Homo sapiens: one gene and its partner. The protein of the gene in region 2 purifies or fractionates together with the protein of the main gene of each other region. This does not show direct contact. Each region holds a gene or a part of one and is shown on either strand. Other genes may lie near its edges.

Region 1 (3,500 bases), on a different chromosome or scaffold from region 2:
AATACAAAAAAATTAGCCAGCGGTGGTGGTGGTGCCTGTAATCCCAGCTACTCGGGAGGCTGAGGCAGAGAATTGCTTGAACCCAGAAGGCAGAGGTTGCAGTGAGCCAAGATCGTGCCACCGCACTCCAGCCTGGGTGACAGAGTGAAACTCCGTCTCAAAAAATAAAATAAAATAAAATGGAATGAAAAGGACTTGCCTAATGTTCCCTCCCTTTCCTCACACCTCCAAGTGCTGCTCACTCTGGCTTCTGTGCTCCCTGGAAATGAAGATTCAAAATGCCACACCACTTACCCTTTCCGGAGGTGACATCAAACACCACTCCCTTCACTGCCAAGTAGATGGGCTGATCTTCCTAGAAAGCAGGGGAGAAGCTGTGAAGAGGAAGGGAAGAGCCAGCTCTTCCAGTGCAACTTAGTAAAATCTTCTCCCATCACAAGCTGAGCAAAGAGCAGTGGGTCAAGTCCCAAAGGCTTTCTGTTAAGCCTGGTCCTTGGCGAGCTTGCCACCTGCCTGGGCAGCGTCATGCCCGCACACAGAAATTTGGAAAAGTCATAAAGTCTCATGACAAGAATGTGGCAATTCTCTCCTTTATAGAGAAAATCAGGGGCCAGGCACAGTGACTCACGCCTGTAATCCCAGCACTGTGGGAGGCCAAGGCGGGCGGATCACCTGAGGTCAGGGGTTCAAGACCAGCCTGGCCAATATGGTGAAACCCTATCTCTACTAAAAATACAAAAATTAGCCGGGCATGGTGGCACATGCCTGTAATCCCAGCTGCTCGCGAGTCTGAGGCTGGAGAATTGCTTGAACCCTGGAGGCAGAGGTCGTAGTGAACCAAGATCATGCCACTGCACCCCAGCCTGGGTGACACAGTGAGACTCCGTCTCAAAAAAAAGAAAATCAGGAACAGAAGCAACTTCATGGAGATGAAAATTCAAAAGAATAGTAAATGATGAATTACTTATCAGTCCAAATTTCCTTTCCTCTTCATCAATAGACATACACGGATGTGACTGATATGAGCAATCTATTTTATATTTTGCTTCTTACAGGTAACATTCCCTCATATAAACATTTCCACCAAAATGACTGTCATTTAAACAGCTCCATGGGGCCCCATCTTTTTTTTTGAGACAGAGTTTCACTCATGCTGCCCAGGCTGGAGTGCAATGGCGCAATGTCAGCTCACTGCAACCTCCACCTTCCGGGTTCATGTGATTCTCCTGACTCAGCCTCCTGAGTAGCTGGGATTACAGGCACCCGCCACCACGCCCCGCTAATTTTTTGTCTTTTTAGTAGAGATGGGGTTTCATCATGTTGGCCAGGCTGGTCTCGAACTCCTGACCTCAGGTGATCCACCCACCTAGGCCTCCCAAAGTGCTGGGATTACCGACGTGAGCCACCATGCCCGGCGTAGGGCCCCATCTTATATTAGTGATATTGTCTACCTATTTGTTTAGCTAGCTTTCTATTTTGGGTATTTGGGTGGTTTCCAATCCTTAGAACTATAAATGGCAGCATTATGAATACATGTTTCTATCAATTACTTTCTAATTTGGTGACTTATTTCATTGAGGCCTTTATTTAAAAATTTCTCTCCACCCAGTGAATGCATAGGAAAGTGCCCTATTTCAATATATGGAATTCCTGGGCCTAAGTATATGAAAACTTAATCACTGTTTATATTTTATTAGTTTGTCCTGTAACAACATTTATAGTGCTAGAGATATGTAAGCAATGCTGTTTCCCCACCGTTCTACTAACAATGGGCTTTACACTTTTTTTTGGCTCTATTAGCAGGCATAAAATGTTACCTCAGAATTTCCCCACCAAGAAAGAATTACACAAAAAAGGATGGCATGACTTTTCTAGCTTCCATCAAGTTGGGCTCAGGCTGGGACGATGGGTACAGTCCCAAGACACCCAAGACAAGATCTCTCCTTTGTCTCAGTGCCATCAGAGGTGCAGGGGCATCAGCCAGGTGGCTCACAGCCCAGGCGAGGGTGGGAGTCGCTGCTGGGTCCATAGGAATCTCAGGCTCTGCAAGCACCTGCTGCTTGGCCTTCTCTTTGGGGTGGGCCTTAGTGTTCTTGCGCTTGTGCAGCTTATGGTGAAGGGTTTTCATGATCCCATTTAACAGACAGAGGAGCTACTGAGGCTCAGAGAAGCTAAGCAACTTGCCCAAGGAAACACACCTCACTGCCTCATAACCACTCAGGCCTGCTTCTCTGCCTGTCATATGAGGGTAACGCCCACTTGCCTCGGGAATGCTGAGGAAAAGAGTGTACGTAATACCTAGCAGGCACGACACAGGAGCTCAGCAGAGGGCTGCCTTTTATTACTCCAAACCGGCTCCTAAAGACAGGCCCTAGAGGACTGCCATTGACTCTGTGGACACTTGCTCCACCTCATCTAACACGGGTCATTTGAAACGGCCTGGATTTCCAAGCCAGCAGACGGCATTTTTCTTTGTGATGATTTACCGCCTTTCCTTTACCAGGTTTCCTTATTCCTCAGCTTTGATTATTTATCAAGTGGGATTATGTATTTATATCAATTTTAAAAATATATTACAGCTATCATTTAACCCCAGTATTTTGTCATATCTTCCATTCTGTGGCTTTCTCCTTGATACTTCTTTTCTTTTTCCTTTTTTTTTTTTTTTGAGACAGAGTCTTACTCTGTCACCCAGACTGGAGTGCAGTGGTACAATATCGGCTCACTGCAACCTCCACCTCCCCAGTTCAAGCGATTCTCCTGCCTCAGTCTCCTGAGTAGCTGGGATTACAGGCACACGCCACCATACCCAGATAATTTTTGTATTTTTAGCAGAGACAGGGTTTCACCATGTTGGCCAGGCTGGTCTCAAACTCCTAACCTCAAGTGATCTGCCCGCCTCGGCCTCCCAAAGGGCTGGGATTACAGGCATAAGCCACCATGCCCAGCCGACACTTATTTTCTATGGGCAAACAGCCATATAAATATAACATTCACATACATAAGATAAACAAAAACATGCATCTTATCACTAACACTCTTTTCTTTTTTTGTGGGGGGGGGACGGAGTCTAGCTCGGTTGCCCAGGCTGGAGTGCAGTGGCACAATCTCGGCTCACTGCAACCTCTGCCTCCCAGGTTCAAGCTATTCTCCTGCCTCAGCCTCCAGGGTAGCTGGGATTACAGACGTGTGTCACCACGCCTGGCCAATTTTTTTTTTTTTTTTTTTTTTGTATATTTAGTAGAGACAGGTTTCACCATGTTGGCCAGGCTGGTCTAGAACTCCTGACCTCAGGTAATCTGCCTGCCTTGACCTCTCAATGTGTTGGGATTATAGGCATGAGGCAACACGCCCGGCAAACAATCTTTTTTTTTTATGAGAAGGAGTTTCACTCTTGTTGCCCAGGCTGGAGTGCAATGTCATGATCTTGGCTCATCGCAACCTCCGCCTCCCGGGTTCAAGCATTTCTCCTGCCTCAGTGTCCCGAGTAGCTGGGATTA
Region 2 (4,040 bases):
CATATTTTTAGTAGAGACAGGGTTTCACCATGTTGGCCAGGCTGGTCTCAAACCCCTGAACTCAAGTGATCTGCTCACCTTGGCCTCCCAAAGTACTAGGATTACAGACATAAGCCACTGTGCCCAGCCGGATTTTTATTTTTTTTTTTTGAGACAGAAACTTGCTGTGTCGCCCAGGCTGGAGTGCAGGGGCGCAATCTCTGCTCACTACAGCCTCTGCCCCTGGGTTCCAGCAATTCTCCTGCCTCAGCCTCCTGGGTAGCTGGGATTACAGGCACATGCCACCATGCCTGGCTAATTTTTGTATTTTTAGTAGAGACGGGGTTTCGCCATGTTGGTCAGGCTGGTCTCCAACTCCTGACCTCAGGTAATCCACCCGCCTTGGCCTCCCAAAGGGCTGGGATTACAGGCGTGAGCCACTGCACCTGGCCTGGGTTTTTTGTTTTTTTTTTTTTTTTGAGACTGAGTCTCGCTCTATCGCCCAGGCTGGAGTGCAGAAAGTGGCGTGATCTTGGCTCACTGCAACCTCCGCCTCCCGGGTTCAAGCAATTCTCCTGACTCAGCCTCCTGAATAGCTGGGACTACAGGCACATGCCACCACACCTGGCTAATTTTTGTATTTTTATTAGAGACAGGGTTTCACAATATTGGCCATGCTGGTCTCGAACTCCTGACCTCATGATCCACCCCCCCCTCAGCCTCCCAAAGTGCTGGGATTACAGGCATGAGCCAACACGCCTGGCCCCTTTTTTTCTCAATTTAAAATTTTTTTAGGGCCGAGCGTGGTGGCTCACACCTGTAATCCCAGAACTTTGGGAGACCAAGTTGGGTGGATAACCTGAGGTGAGGAGTTTGATACCAGCCTGGCCAACATAGTGAAACTCCATCTCTACTAAATTAAAAAAAAAAAAATTTAAATTTGTTTTCTAGAGATGGGGGTCCCACTATGTTGCCTGGGGCTAGTGTCCAACTCCTGGGCTCAAGCAGTCCACCACACCCAGCCATTCAACCTGATTTTTTTTTTGTTTGCTTTTGAGACAGAGTCTTGCTCTGTCCCCCAGGCTGGAGTGCAGTGGCATGATCTCGGCTCACTGCAACCTCCACCTCCTGGGTTCAAGTGATTCTCCTGCCTCTCCCTCCCGAGTAGCTAGGACTACAAGTGTGTACCACCACGCCCAGTTAATTTTTGTATTTTTGGTACAGACGAGGTTTCACTGTGTTGGCCAGGCTGGTCTCAAACTCCTGACCTCAGGTGACCTGCCAGCCTCAGCCTCCCAAAGTCCTGGGATTACAGGCATGAGCCAACGTGCCCACCCCAGCCTTTTCTTTTTTTCTTTTTTTTTCTTTTTTTTTTTTTTGAGACGGAGTCTCACTCTGTTGCCCAGGCTGGAATGCAGTGGCGCCATCTCAGGTCACTGCAAGCTCCGCCTTCCGGGTTCACGCCATTCTCCTGCCTCAGCCTCCCGAGTAACTGGGACTACAGATGCTCGCCACCACGCCTGGCTAAATTTTTTGTATTTTTGTAGAGTCAGGGTTTCACCGTGTTAGCCAGGATGGTCTCCATCTCCTGACCTCGTGATCTGCCTGCCTCGGCCTCCCAAAGTGCTGGGATTACAGGTGTGAGCCACCGCGCCCGGCCCCCCCAACCTTATTTTCAACCTCACCACCTCTTACCAGGGCCTTCCAGGGCCAGTGCAGTCAACCCCTTCCAGGTCCCTGCACTTCCACACTGGCTGCCTACAGTCTGTTCCCCACAACAGCCAGAGCACACCTGTGATACCCTAAGTCCCATCAAAGCCCTCCTCTGCTGCGGACCAGGGCCAACTTGGGCATCTGATGTGTGAACCACAATGCCAGAACTCACAAGACTTTTAGGGGCCTGTGGGAACGTTTTAACTTCTTTTATTTTATTTTAATAAAAATATGAAAAAGATGTTTTCTTCCTAACATGAACAGTCCTACTGCAGAACTTCTTTTATTTTATTTTATTGAGACAGGGTCTCACTTTGTCACCCAGGCTGGAGTGCAGTGGCATGATCTCGGCTCACTGCAACCTCTGCCACCTGGGCTCAAGCAATCCTCCTTCCTCAGCCCCCAAGTAGCTGGGATTACAGACGTGTACCACCACCCCCAGCTAATTTTTTGTAGAGACTGGGTTTCACCATGTTGCCCAAGCTGGTCTCAAACTCCTGAGCTCAGTAGATCCACCCACCTCAGCCTCCCGTGGTGCTAGAATTACAGGTATAATCCACGATGCCTGGCCTATTTTATTATTATTCTTTTCAGACAGGGTTTCACTCTGTTGCCAGGATGGAGTACAGTGGGACAATCATTACTCACTGCAACCTCGAACTCCCCAGCTCAAACAAACCTCCCATCTGGGCCTCCCAATTAGCTGGGACAACTCCTGGGCTCAAGTGATCCTCCCGCTTCAGCCTCCCAAAGAGCTAGGAGTAGACACATGAGCAACAATGACTGGCAAAAGCCAAAGTCTTCCTGTTGGTCCTCAAGGCCCTCAAGGTCTGACCTGTCACCCGTTCACCCTGCTTCAGCCACACTGAGCTCCTTGTGGCTCCTGGAATTCTGCACACTCTCCTGCTCGAAGGCTTTTATGCCTGTTATTCTCTCCCCACCTGGATCTCTCTTCCTTCAAATAGCCACACGGCTCCCTCCCTCAGGTCATATCTTAAATGTCACCTTTATCGGGAACACCTTCCCTGAAACGTCCCTGCCAAAATTGCGAACCACCACCTGCCACCAACTCTGACATGTCTGTCAAGTGTCACCCATGATCACACTGGGTCCTCATAACAGTCCCAGGAAAGGACACTGAGGCTCAGACAAAGGTCACTTGCTCAAGGACACACAATGAGGGGAGTTGTGACAGGAGGTCATAAGCCTAGGGACCTGCTGACCCAGAGTCCACACAGCTCACCATGACACTTCAAATTTGTCACAGGAGCAGGAAAGGGGATTGAAATGGGGTCTCACCTCATTTTCGATGGTTAAAGCAGGGGACCAGGATCTTCTGGGGATGGGCTGTGGTGCGCGGGCCTGGGGCTTCCAGCGAGGCACCTGGGCTACTGAATAGGTGCTGAAGCCCAGGGCGGGCAGTGAGGCTGAGAACAGCAGCTCCGGAGGGTGCGCCTGGCTGTCTGAGCTGGGAAATATTACCACCTCGGATAAAGGAGGAGGGAAACTGAGTCAAGAGTACCCATGGAAAGCTATACATGCATGGAGACAAAAAACTCAAGGAAGGAAAAGAGTCCTGAGATGGGGAAAGGAAATGGAGGTGTGTGTGGTGGGGGGACAGTCAGATTCCAAGGAAATGATTGCAGAGAAGATTCACCAGGTGGAAAAAAAAACCCACCGGGAGGGTGGAGAGACCATGGAGTCGGGGGAGTGAAGGAGGAAGTAGGGGAAGAAACCCTTGAGGCAGGTTCTCGGGGGAGGAAGAGGTTTGGGGGAGGACGTTTTCTGGAATGAAGGAGATGTCCATAAACAGCAATAAATTTTCCTGGGGAAGCGGGGTATTAAAATGGAGGACCAGCCAGGCACGGTGGCTCATGCCTATAATCCAGCAGGCGGAGTTTGAAGTGAGCCAAGATCGCGCCACTGCACTCCAGCCTGGGTGACAGAGCGAGACTCCGTCTCAAAAAAAAAAAAAAAAGGGAGGACCACTCACAGGAGGCATATGTTCCCAAGGGGAGACTGATATTAAGGGGCAGAGGGAGAAGATACAAGAGGGGGGAAGAGATATGCATGAGTGGGAGGTATTCATGGAAGCAGGCGATATCCATGGGGGCGATGAGGAAATGCCCACTGGGGGAGGAGTCCCAGCGGGGGAATATTCGTTGTTTGGGCTCACATCGCTGGGCACTGTCCTGCCATTGGGGTCCTTCACAACGAAAACGCCTTCGCTGACCGGCAGCCGTACCATCCAATTCACCTTCCGCCCCAGGGGATTATAAACGATGACCTGGAACTGGGGAGGCGGGGGTCAGAGAGGGCATGGGTCACAGCAGGCCTTCTCCAAACCC

Evidence for each region. Proteins that work in one complex are often made in the same cells at the same time.
Region 1: the proteins of MAN2B1 (region 2) and NENF fractionate together in Homo sapiens (co-fractionation; one large-scale study listed by BioGRID). This does not show direct contact.

What each region holds. Positions count from the first base shown.
Region 1 is NC_000001.11:212,439,420-212,442,919, reverse strand, and holds part of NENF (neudesin precursor), read right to left. Parts: intron 356-3,500; coding exon 295-355; intron 1-294. UniProt on the Homo sapiens protein: Acts as a neurotrophic factor in postnatal mature neurons enhancing neuronal survival. Promotes cell proliferation and neurogenesis in undifferentiated neural progenitor cells at the embryonic stage and inhibits differentiation of astrocytes.
Region 2 is NC_000019.10:12,652,703-12,656,742, forward strand, and holds part of MAN2B1 (lysosomal alpha-mannosidase isoform 1 precursor), read right to left. Parts: intron 3,986-4,040; coding exon 3,869-3,985; intron 3,178-3,868; coding exon 2,992-3,177; intron 1-2,991. UniProt on the Homo sapiens protein: Necessary for the catabolism of N-linked carbohydrates released during glycoprotein turnover. Cleaves all known types of alpha-mannosidic linkages.